3 separate regions of the Homo sapiens genome follow, and all the other regions are linked to region 1. The links come from fine-mapping of genetic effects on gene expression. A gene starts in region 1. Each other region holds a variant in brackets. All regions are shown on one strand. Distances are between the middles of the regions. Region 1 holds the start of SPRED1 (sprouty related EVH1 domain containing 1). Region 2 has its middle 13 kb from the start of LINC01852. Region 3 has its middle 52 kb from the start of LINC01852.

Evidence for each region. PIP is the estimated chance that this variant, and not a neighbour inherited with it, causes the effect. A credible set is the group of variants that fine-mapping cannot tell apart.
Region 2: its variant is the best candidate, but not a certain one, in a credible set for the expression of SPRED1 in whole blood (TOPMed, PIP 0.56).
Region 3: its variant is the best candidate, but not a certain one, in a credible set for the expression of SPRED1 in monocytes (TOPMed, PIP 0.55).

The regions. Positions count from the first base shown.
Region 1 is chr15:38,251,210-38,253,968 of GRCh38, reverse strand. SPRED1 (sprouty related EVH1 domain containing 1) reads right to left here and starts at 1,133. Exons shown (of 7, transcript NM_152594.3): 1 at 752-1,133. The coding sequence starts at 783. RefSeq lists silencers at 924-973, 984-1,043, 1,224-1,323, 1,424-1,473, 1,484-1,783 and 2 more.
Region 2 is chr15:38,084,155-38,086,913 of GRCh38, reverse strand. No RefSeq gene overlaps it. Among named protein-coding and RNA genes, the nearest start is that of LINC01852, 13 kb to the right of the region's middle. RefSeq lists a silencer at 840-899. The variant A/G (reference allele first, on the strand shown) is at 1,509.
Region 3 is chr15:38,123,522-38,126,280 of GRCh38, reverse strand. No RefSeq gene overlaps it. Among named protein-coding and RNA genes, the nearest start is that of LINC01852, 52 kb to the right of the region's middle. The variant A/G (reference allele first, on the strand shown) is at 1,414.

The DNA of each region.
Region 1 (2,759 bases):
AATGAAATCACCAACATATTCAGCAATGTAAATTCGGTTACATCAACGTAAATCATGTGTTTTCACATAGCTGAAAGGTAAAAATTAGCATTCAAAATTCTTCTCCGTTCCTGAAGACACGTCCAATATTCACAAAGGTAAACTCTAGCTCAACATCGCCCACACTCCAGGTGTCCTTAATCCTATTAAATTCTAAAAATGTTTCCCTAACCCTATTTTTTACAAGAATCTTACAGGTCATAAGTTTAAAAGGGGGAGGGGGGAGAGGGTGAAGGCTTAATCGGTATTTAAGAGTCACTGACTCATCGAATTAAGATTCAAGAGCAGTTTGCTGCAGGAGGTGCTCCCACACATTAGTTTCCAAGTGAAACAGCTATAAAGGAAGTAGGATGGATACTGAAGGTATGGTGACTGGTATGTGAGTGAAAAAGGACGGGACAGGGGTCTCACAGGCAAAGGGGTAGTTTCTACTCCACTTCCATCCATCCACATTATTCCCTCTCATAGACGTACAATTGCCATCCTCTCCCAACACTTAATCCCCTACCCCAAAAGAAAGCAGCTAAATGTGGGAGGATGGGGAGGGGTGCTGCCACTAAAAATGGCTAAAGAAATCAGCTATCTCCAGAAGATGCACCGAACTCTCCAGGGTCGCAAGCTTTCCGGCACCCAAGTTTCGGATGGGTCTGGGGGAGAGCCGAGGGCGGATAGGGGGAGGGGGATTAGCAATCGAGATCAATGAGGCGCTTACTCGTTGTCAGAAGTCGCCGTCTCCTCGCTCATCTTTCCCTCACCGTGATCCGATCTGGAGATGGAGGAGCAACAGCAGGCGGGGGAGCAACAGCAGCACCGAGGGGCAGGAGGCAGCGGCGGCCGGGGGGGCGCGGGGGCAGCGGCACAGGGGCCTCACCATGGTGGATGCCTCACCCAGAACGGTACCCCCCCAGCCGGGAACCCCGGCCACCCCCGCAGGGGGGTGGCGGCAGCAACCTCCGCCGTGGCGACCCCAGCCTCTTCCCCCGCCTCAGTGCCCAGCCAAGGGATCCGAGGAGGCCCGGTGGAAAGGGAAAAAGAGAGGGGCTGCAAAGGCTGACTGGAGAGCTGCTCCTCCAGCCACTGGGGTGGAGCGCAGCGGGGTCCGGCCAGGAAGGAGTCGGCGGGCGGAGAACCCGGGAGCAGAGGCGGCGCTTCCCTCAGGGATGCGGCGAGGAGGAAGCAGAGCTCCGCTCGGTGGGGGCCGGCGGGGGGGTGCCGAGCCCAGGCTCCGGGCAGCGGCGGCGCGGTCCTGCCGGAGCCCACCCCACCATCTCCCGCCTCGCCGCCGGCTGCCCCTCAACCCCCGGCGGCGTCTGGGTCGGTCCTCAGGCGCCGGCAGAGCAGGGCTAGGGGCCCCGCGGCGGCGGATTCCTCCAGACACGCTCCAGCCGGGACTCCTCCTCAGGGGGGTGGAGGGGGCGGCGGGGAGCGTGTGAGGCGAGGGGCAGGCAAACCGATCGTTCCCACCCGGCCGGAGAAGAGCGGGCGGGCCCGGGTCCGGGGGGCAGGATCCCGAGAAGCGGCGGGAGAGGACAAGAGCGGCTGCAGGTTCCCCGCCAGCCAGTGCCCACCAGCAGCTCAGCGGGCCAGCTCCTCACGCCCGAGAGAGGGGAGCCGCGAGGGGGGCGGCGGAAGCGCTCACGCCGCCCGCTCCTTCCGCCGCCGCAGCCGCTGCCCGAACCGGGGGCGCCCGCGAGAGAAGGAGGCGAAGTAGTCCCTCGCGACTTCTCCCGGCCGCCCGCTTTCCCCGGAGGCCAGAGCGGGCGCGGGGTGGGGCTGCCGAGCGGGGTGCCCAGGCTGTGAGGGTGTGTGGGTAGGACTAAAAGCCGCGGCCTCCGGGCGAATCACTGCAACTCGAAGTCATGTGCAGCATAGCAAGTTTCAGGAAAGTAGTTCCCTCCTCCCTTCATTTCCCAAATCGTTGTCGAGCCACTTAGCGGAGAAAGGGGGAGGGAGGCGGAGGGATATCCTCCCTGCACCGTGCTCGGTGTGCGTGCGCGCGCTCCAAACTCTTGGCACGCCGCGAAAGGGGGCGGGGGTGGGAGCTGCGAGGGGAGCTGCTAGGGAGGTTGCATTGTTGTGGCGCGTTACTCCCCGTTACTCTGCTTGGAATATCCGGGTTGCTTGAACGAAGAGGCTAGAAAGACAGTGTGCTCAGAGGGGAAATCTGGAGGCTACTCTCTTCTGCCGTGTGTGTGTGTGTGTGTGTGTGTGTGTGTGTGTGTGTGTGTGTGTTTTCTTTGCAGAGCAAAGAATGGAACTGGCATGAGTTCATCTTTAGTTAGTGGGGGTTAGAAGCAGGGACTGCAAAGAGAGCTCCTCCTGCTGTCCCCCTGGTTGCACTGCTGCAGTCCCCTAGCTGCATGCACGAAGTGTATGTGTGTGTGTGTGTGTGTGTGTGTGTGTGTGAGAGAGAGAGAGAGAGAATATGAGAATGTATGTGTGTTTTAACACCTCGCCTCGCTGCCTGGATTCTTACTGCGCAAGGGGTATGCTATCAGGGCATTCATCTCGGAAAGCTGGAGTGATTGTTAATGGAGAACGACTTCCATTGAAGCCCAGGGTAGGCGTGTTACATGAATCTGGCGCAGCCAGAACGGAGGAAATAACTCCCGCTGCGAGTGAGGTTGCATAACTATAGCGCAGGAGATGCTTCTGTGGCACGAACTGCTCTGAACGGAGGCGGACCGATTGGATAGACAGCTGTCACGAATGCATTGTTA
Region 2 (2,759 bases), 170 kb after region 1:
TGATATCATGCTCTTCATATTATTCTGCAACTTGTTTTTCACTTGAGCAATCAGAATATACAGATCTATTTTTATCTGGTGGTCTGAATTGAAGGACGCTCACATGGCTTTGACTGTCTTTTCCTGCTGGAGATGTGTGGGTGAGACAAAGGCATAGAAGCCACTGGTCCTCTAACTTTACCTGGAGGGCATGTTCAAGTGAGATTACTACTCACATCCTCCCCATTCCGCCCAAAGTTTCTGATTTTAGAAACCTGTCAATAGAGAATTTTAAATAAGACATATACCTTTTATTTTATACATGTTTCCAGGAAGGCATCACTGTGATGCATTATAAACAAGCTGAAACTGCAGTGGGCAGTTTTCCATGGTGGGATATGGAAACACATTCTCTGAAATGTGATTCTTCCTATATCTTCTCTTTCTTACAGTTGGTTCTAAGCAAGAACAGATCTACTGAATGGTGAGAAAATGGACAGGGAGTCTTCAAACTTCCTCCTTGTCTGTGCTCCCAACCTCTTTCTGTGTCCTTTTGCAATCCCTTCAGTAGTTTCTCCATGTGACTACATTTTACTGCTTTTGTCCTTCTTACCAGTCCTTCCTCTTGCTACCAAACTCTTCCTCCTCCTCACTTTAAGAAGGCACTCTTAAAAAGTTGAAGCTTCTAGTCCACCCAGAAACAAATTGAGATAAGCTTTTTGAGAGGCTGCTTTATAGGCTGTTTCAATTCAGAGAGATTAAACAGGATGACCTCACTGAAAAAGAAACCACACTTAATAGCTTTAAATGGGACTGCTCTTAGCTGGGTCACCCTGAACCACTGCATACACTTCTTGTTTCAAGTGAATGTGGTGGTTTGGGCCAGAGTGAGTTGTCCGTGAGATAGTTTAAATGCCTTTGCTTTCAGAAATGAGCCAACACCTTACAATGTAAGCAGAGGGAGGGAATATGTAGGTTTGTCTGATATTCAATCCCAAACCCTGAATCCTATTCCTGAGACATCTTGGGAAACTGGCATTCTCTTTCTCTGCTTCTCTCAATGAGAAATTTGTGGAATGCAAGTTCTTCAGAATAGAGACTCCATCCATGTCTCACCCACGTTTATCCTAAATTAGGGACTTCAGATGAACACAGTTTAAGGTAACAGCAAAGAGCATCTCCTTTAAATCAGAAAGACCAGATCTCCACTCCCAGCTTCACTATCAGGGCTGTTGTTGGGGTCAAATAATAAGTTCATACAAGAGCTTATCACAATACTTAGAACACAGTAAATATTTAACACATTTTAATTATTTGTTAGTTTTTATCTTGAAATGGAAGCTGCCTCTATCAACAGCCAACATAAAGAACTCTGGGCTCTGTCCCAAAATATGTGGCCCAAATTTTAACTAAATCAAGACTTCTAGAAAGCTTTTCCTAAATCTCTTTGACTTCGTGAGGGATACTAACTTTTAGTAGCTTGCTCTCTCAGTCTTCTAAAGGGGAAACAGATTTTGCCAACATTAGGA[A/G]GTCTTCATTATTAATAGACATTGTTTTGAGTTCCCCCTGGCCAAGTTGCTGACTCAATACTTCTTGTTTTAGAAAAAGGAAGTAGCTGAAAGGCACCTGTTAATGAGACTAAAGTACCACAGTGTCTGTGTGTGTGGGTGGGTGTGGGTGTGTGAGCGCGCACACGTGCGAGAGAGGTGGGGAGAGACAATGAGAGAGAGAGAGAAGAGAGTTAAATCCCATTCTTCGAGTGAATATGAAAACCATCATATAGAAAGATGAGGTTCACGGTATATCAATTTTCTTGAAATGTCTAACTTTTATTTTCCCTTAAACATGCTTTTTAATTTTTGCCCTTAAGAAGTGTACAATAGACAAACCAATTGTTACTGTAATGGAAAGATTTTATTTCCTATAGCTTTCTTGATAAATAAAATTATTAAATTGGAATTGCCATTAACTTAGTTATAGAGTTCTGCAGTGTTACATCAAGTTATGTATTAAAGAAATTTAAAGAGGGTTTTGTAAGATGAGTGAAGGATGTACTTCATTCTAACTCAGTCCTTTTTCTTAGAACAGCCTTTTCTAATACAGCAGGACAAGACCTGTGGCCTTAAAGAGAGGTTTCAAACAAGGCACGTTACTTTCCTCTTTTATTAATTGATTCAAGCTTATCATGGAAACACATTTATTACATGTCTCCTATATGCCAAGGTTTGTGCTAGGGGTTGAAGATACAATCTAGGGAAAAGCAAACATAAAGAGGTAGAACATTGAGACTTACAAATTCTGTTGAAAAGAAAATAAAAAAGTAAAAGAGGTAGAACAGGATAAATTCTCCAGTAGAGGTAAGAACAGAGAGCTGTAGGGATGGAGGAAGCAATGACTAATTGCCTGTGGTCAAGGAAGGCTCAACCAGAGGAACTGACTCTATACCATGTAAAAACAGCACACTTTGTGGTATAACACCAGCCAGCTTCCTGCATTTTGATTTCTGACTGACCCAACTTTTGCTTTTGATCATTTCCTTTGGTTGGTCAGTCTGCCTGAAGCTCATATTCTACTCATACTCTATTTTTCTATATATTTCTAGAATCTAGACAGGATATGTGTTTGGCATATAATAGGTGCCTAATCAATGTTCAGCTGAAACGATGATGGCTCATGGCTTCAATAAGCTTCCATCCTCATTCCTTTATGCATAGAATGGATCTTCCTTTTTGTATTTAATCCCACATTTCTCCTCAATTTTAACTTTCATGATAAATTAT
Region 3 (2,759 bases), 130 kb after region 1:
TATATTGGAACATAGCCTTTTGATGAAAAAGGACTGCTTTAGACTTAGGTAGGCAATTTTAGTTGACAGTTATGTGCATTCCCTTTTTATTTTATTTACATTTTTTAATTTCTTTTTTATTATTATACTTTAAATTTTGGGATACATGTGCAGAACGTGCAGGTTTGTTACATAGGTATACATGTGCCATGTTGGTTTGCTGCACCCATCAACCTGTCATCTACATTAGGTATTTCTCCTAATGCTATCCCTTTCCTAGCCGCCCACACACTGACAGGCCCCAGTGTGGGATGTTCCCCTCCCTGGGTCCATGTGTTCTCATTGTTCACCTCCCACTTATGAGTGAGAACATGTGGTGTTTGGTTTTCTGTTCCTGTGTCAGTTTGCTGAGGATGATGGTTTCCAGCTTCATCCATGTCCCTGCAAAGGACATGAACTCATCATTTTTTATGGCTGCATAGTATTCCTTGGTATATATGTGCCACATTTTCTTTTCTTTTTTTCTCCAAGACAGAGTCTCTCTCTGTCACCCAGGCTGGAGTGCAGTGGCGCAATCACGGCTCACTGCAACCTCTGCCTCCCAGGTTCAAGTGATTCTCCTGCCTCAGCCTCCCAAGTAGCTGGGACTACAGGCACATGCCACCATGCCCAGCTAATTTTTTTTGTATTTTTAGTAGAGACGGGGTTTCACTGTGTTAGCCAGGATGGCCTCAATCTCCTGACCTTGTGATCCACCTGCCTCGGGCTCCCAAAGTGCTGGGATTACAGGCGTGAGCCACCGTGCCCAGCCCACATTTTCTTTATCTAGTTAATCATTGATAGGCTTTTGTGTTGGTTCCAAGTCTTTGCTATTGTGAATAGTGCTGCAGTAAACATACATGTGCATGTGGCTTTATAGTAGAATGATTTATAATCCTTTGGGTATATACGCAGTAATGGGATTGCTGGGTTAAATGGTATTTCTGGTTCTAGATCCTTGAGAAATCATCACACTGTCTTCCACAATGGTTGAACTAAATTACACTCCCACCCACAGTGTAGAAGTGTCCCTATTTCTCCACAGCCTCACCAGCATCTGTTGTTTCCTGACATTTTAGTGATCACCATTCTAACTGGCATGAGATGGTATCTCATTGGGTTTTGATTTGTATTTCTCTAATGACCAGTGATGAAGAGTTTCTTTTCATATGTTTGTTGGCTGCATAAATGCCTTCTGTTGAGAAGTGTCTGTTTATATCCTTTGCCCACTTTTTGATGGGGTTTTTTTTTCTTGTAACTTTAAGTTCCTTGTAGATTCTGGATGTTAGCCCTTTGTCAGATGGATAGATTTGCAAAAATTTTCTCCCATTCTGTAGGTTGCCTGTTCACTCTGATGATAGTTCCTTTGCTGTGCAAAAGCTCTTTAGTTTAATT[A/G]GATCCCATTTGTCAATTTTGGCTTTTGTTGCCATTGCTTTTCGTGTTTTAGTCATGAAGTTTTTGCCCATGCCTATGTCCTAAATGGTATTGCCTAGGTTTTTTGGTTTTTCTAAGGTTTTTATGGTTTTAGGTCTTATGTTTAAGTCTTTAATCCATCTTGAGTTAATTTTTGTATAAGCTGTAAGGAAGGGTCCAGTTTCAGTTTTCTGCATATGGCTAGCCAGTTTTTCCAGCACCATTTATTAAACAGGGAATCTTTCCCCATTGCTTGTTTTTGTCAGGTTTGTCAAAGACCAAATGGTTGCAGATGTGTGGCGTTATTTCTGAGGCCTCTGTTCTGTTCTATACATCTGTTTTGGTACCAGTACCATGCTGTTTTGGCTACTGTAGCCTTGTAGTATAGTTTGAAGTCAGGTAGTGTGTTTCCTCCAGCTTTGTTCTTTTTGCCTGGAATTGTCTTGGCTATAAGGGCTCTTTTTTGGTTCCATATGAAATTTAAAGTAGTTTTTTTCCAATTCTGTGAATGGTATCTTGATGAGAATAGCATTGAATCTATAAATTACTTTGGGCAGTATGACCATTTTCAAGATATTGATTCTTCTTATTCATGAGGATGGAATGTTTTTCCATTTGTTTGCATCTTCTCTTATTTCCTTGAGTAGCATTTTACAGTTCTCCTTGAAGAGGTCCTTCACATCCCTTGTAAGTTGTATTCCTAGGTATTTTATTCTCTTTGTAGCAATAGTGAATAAGAGTTCACCTATGATTTGGCTCTCTGTTTGTCTATTATTGGCATGCAGGAATGCTTGTGATATTTGCACATTGATTTTGTATTCTGAGACTTTGCTGAAGTTGCTTATCAGCTTAAGGAGTTTTTGGGCTGAGATGATGGGGTTTCCTAAATATACAATCATGTCATCTGCAAACAGAGACAGTTTGACTTCCTCTTTTCCTAATTGAATACCCTTTATTTCTTTCTCTTGCCTGATTGCCCTGGCCAGAGCTTCCAATACTATGTTGAATAGGAGGGGTGAGAGAGGGCATCCTTGTTCTGTGCCAGTTTTCAAAGGAAATGCTTCCAGCTTTTGCCCATTTAGTATGATATTGGCTGTGGGTTTGTCATAAATAGCTCTTATTATTTTGAGATACGTTCCATGAATACCTAGTTTATTGAGAGTTTTTAACATGAAGCGGTGTTGAATTTTATCGAAGGCCTTTTCTGCATCTATTGAGATAATCATGTGGTTTTTGTCATTGGTTCTGTTTATGTGATGGATTACGTTTCTTGTTTTGCGTATGTTGAACAAGCCTTGCACCTAGGGATGAAGCCGATTTGATTGTGG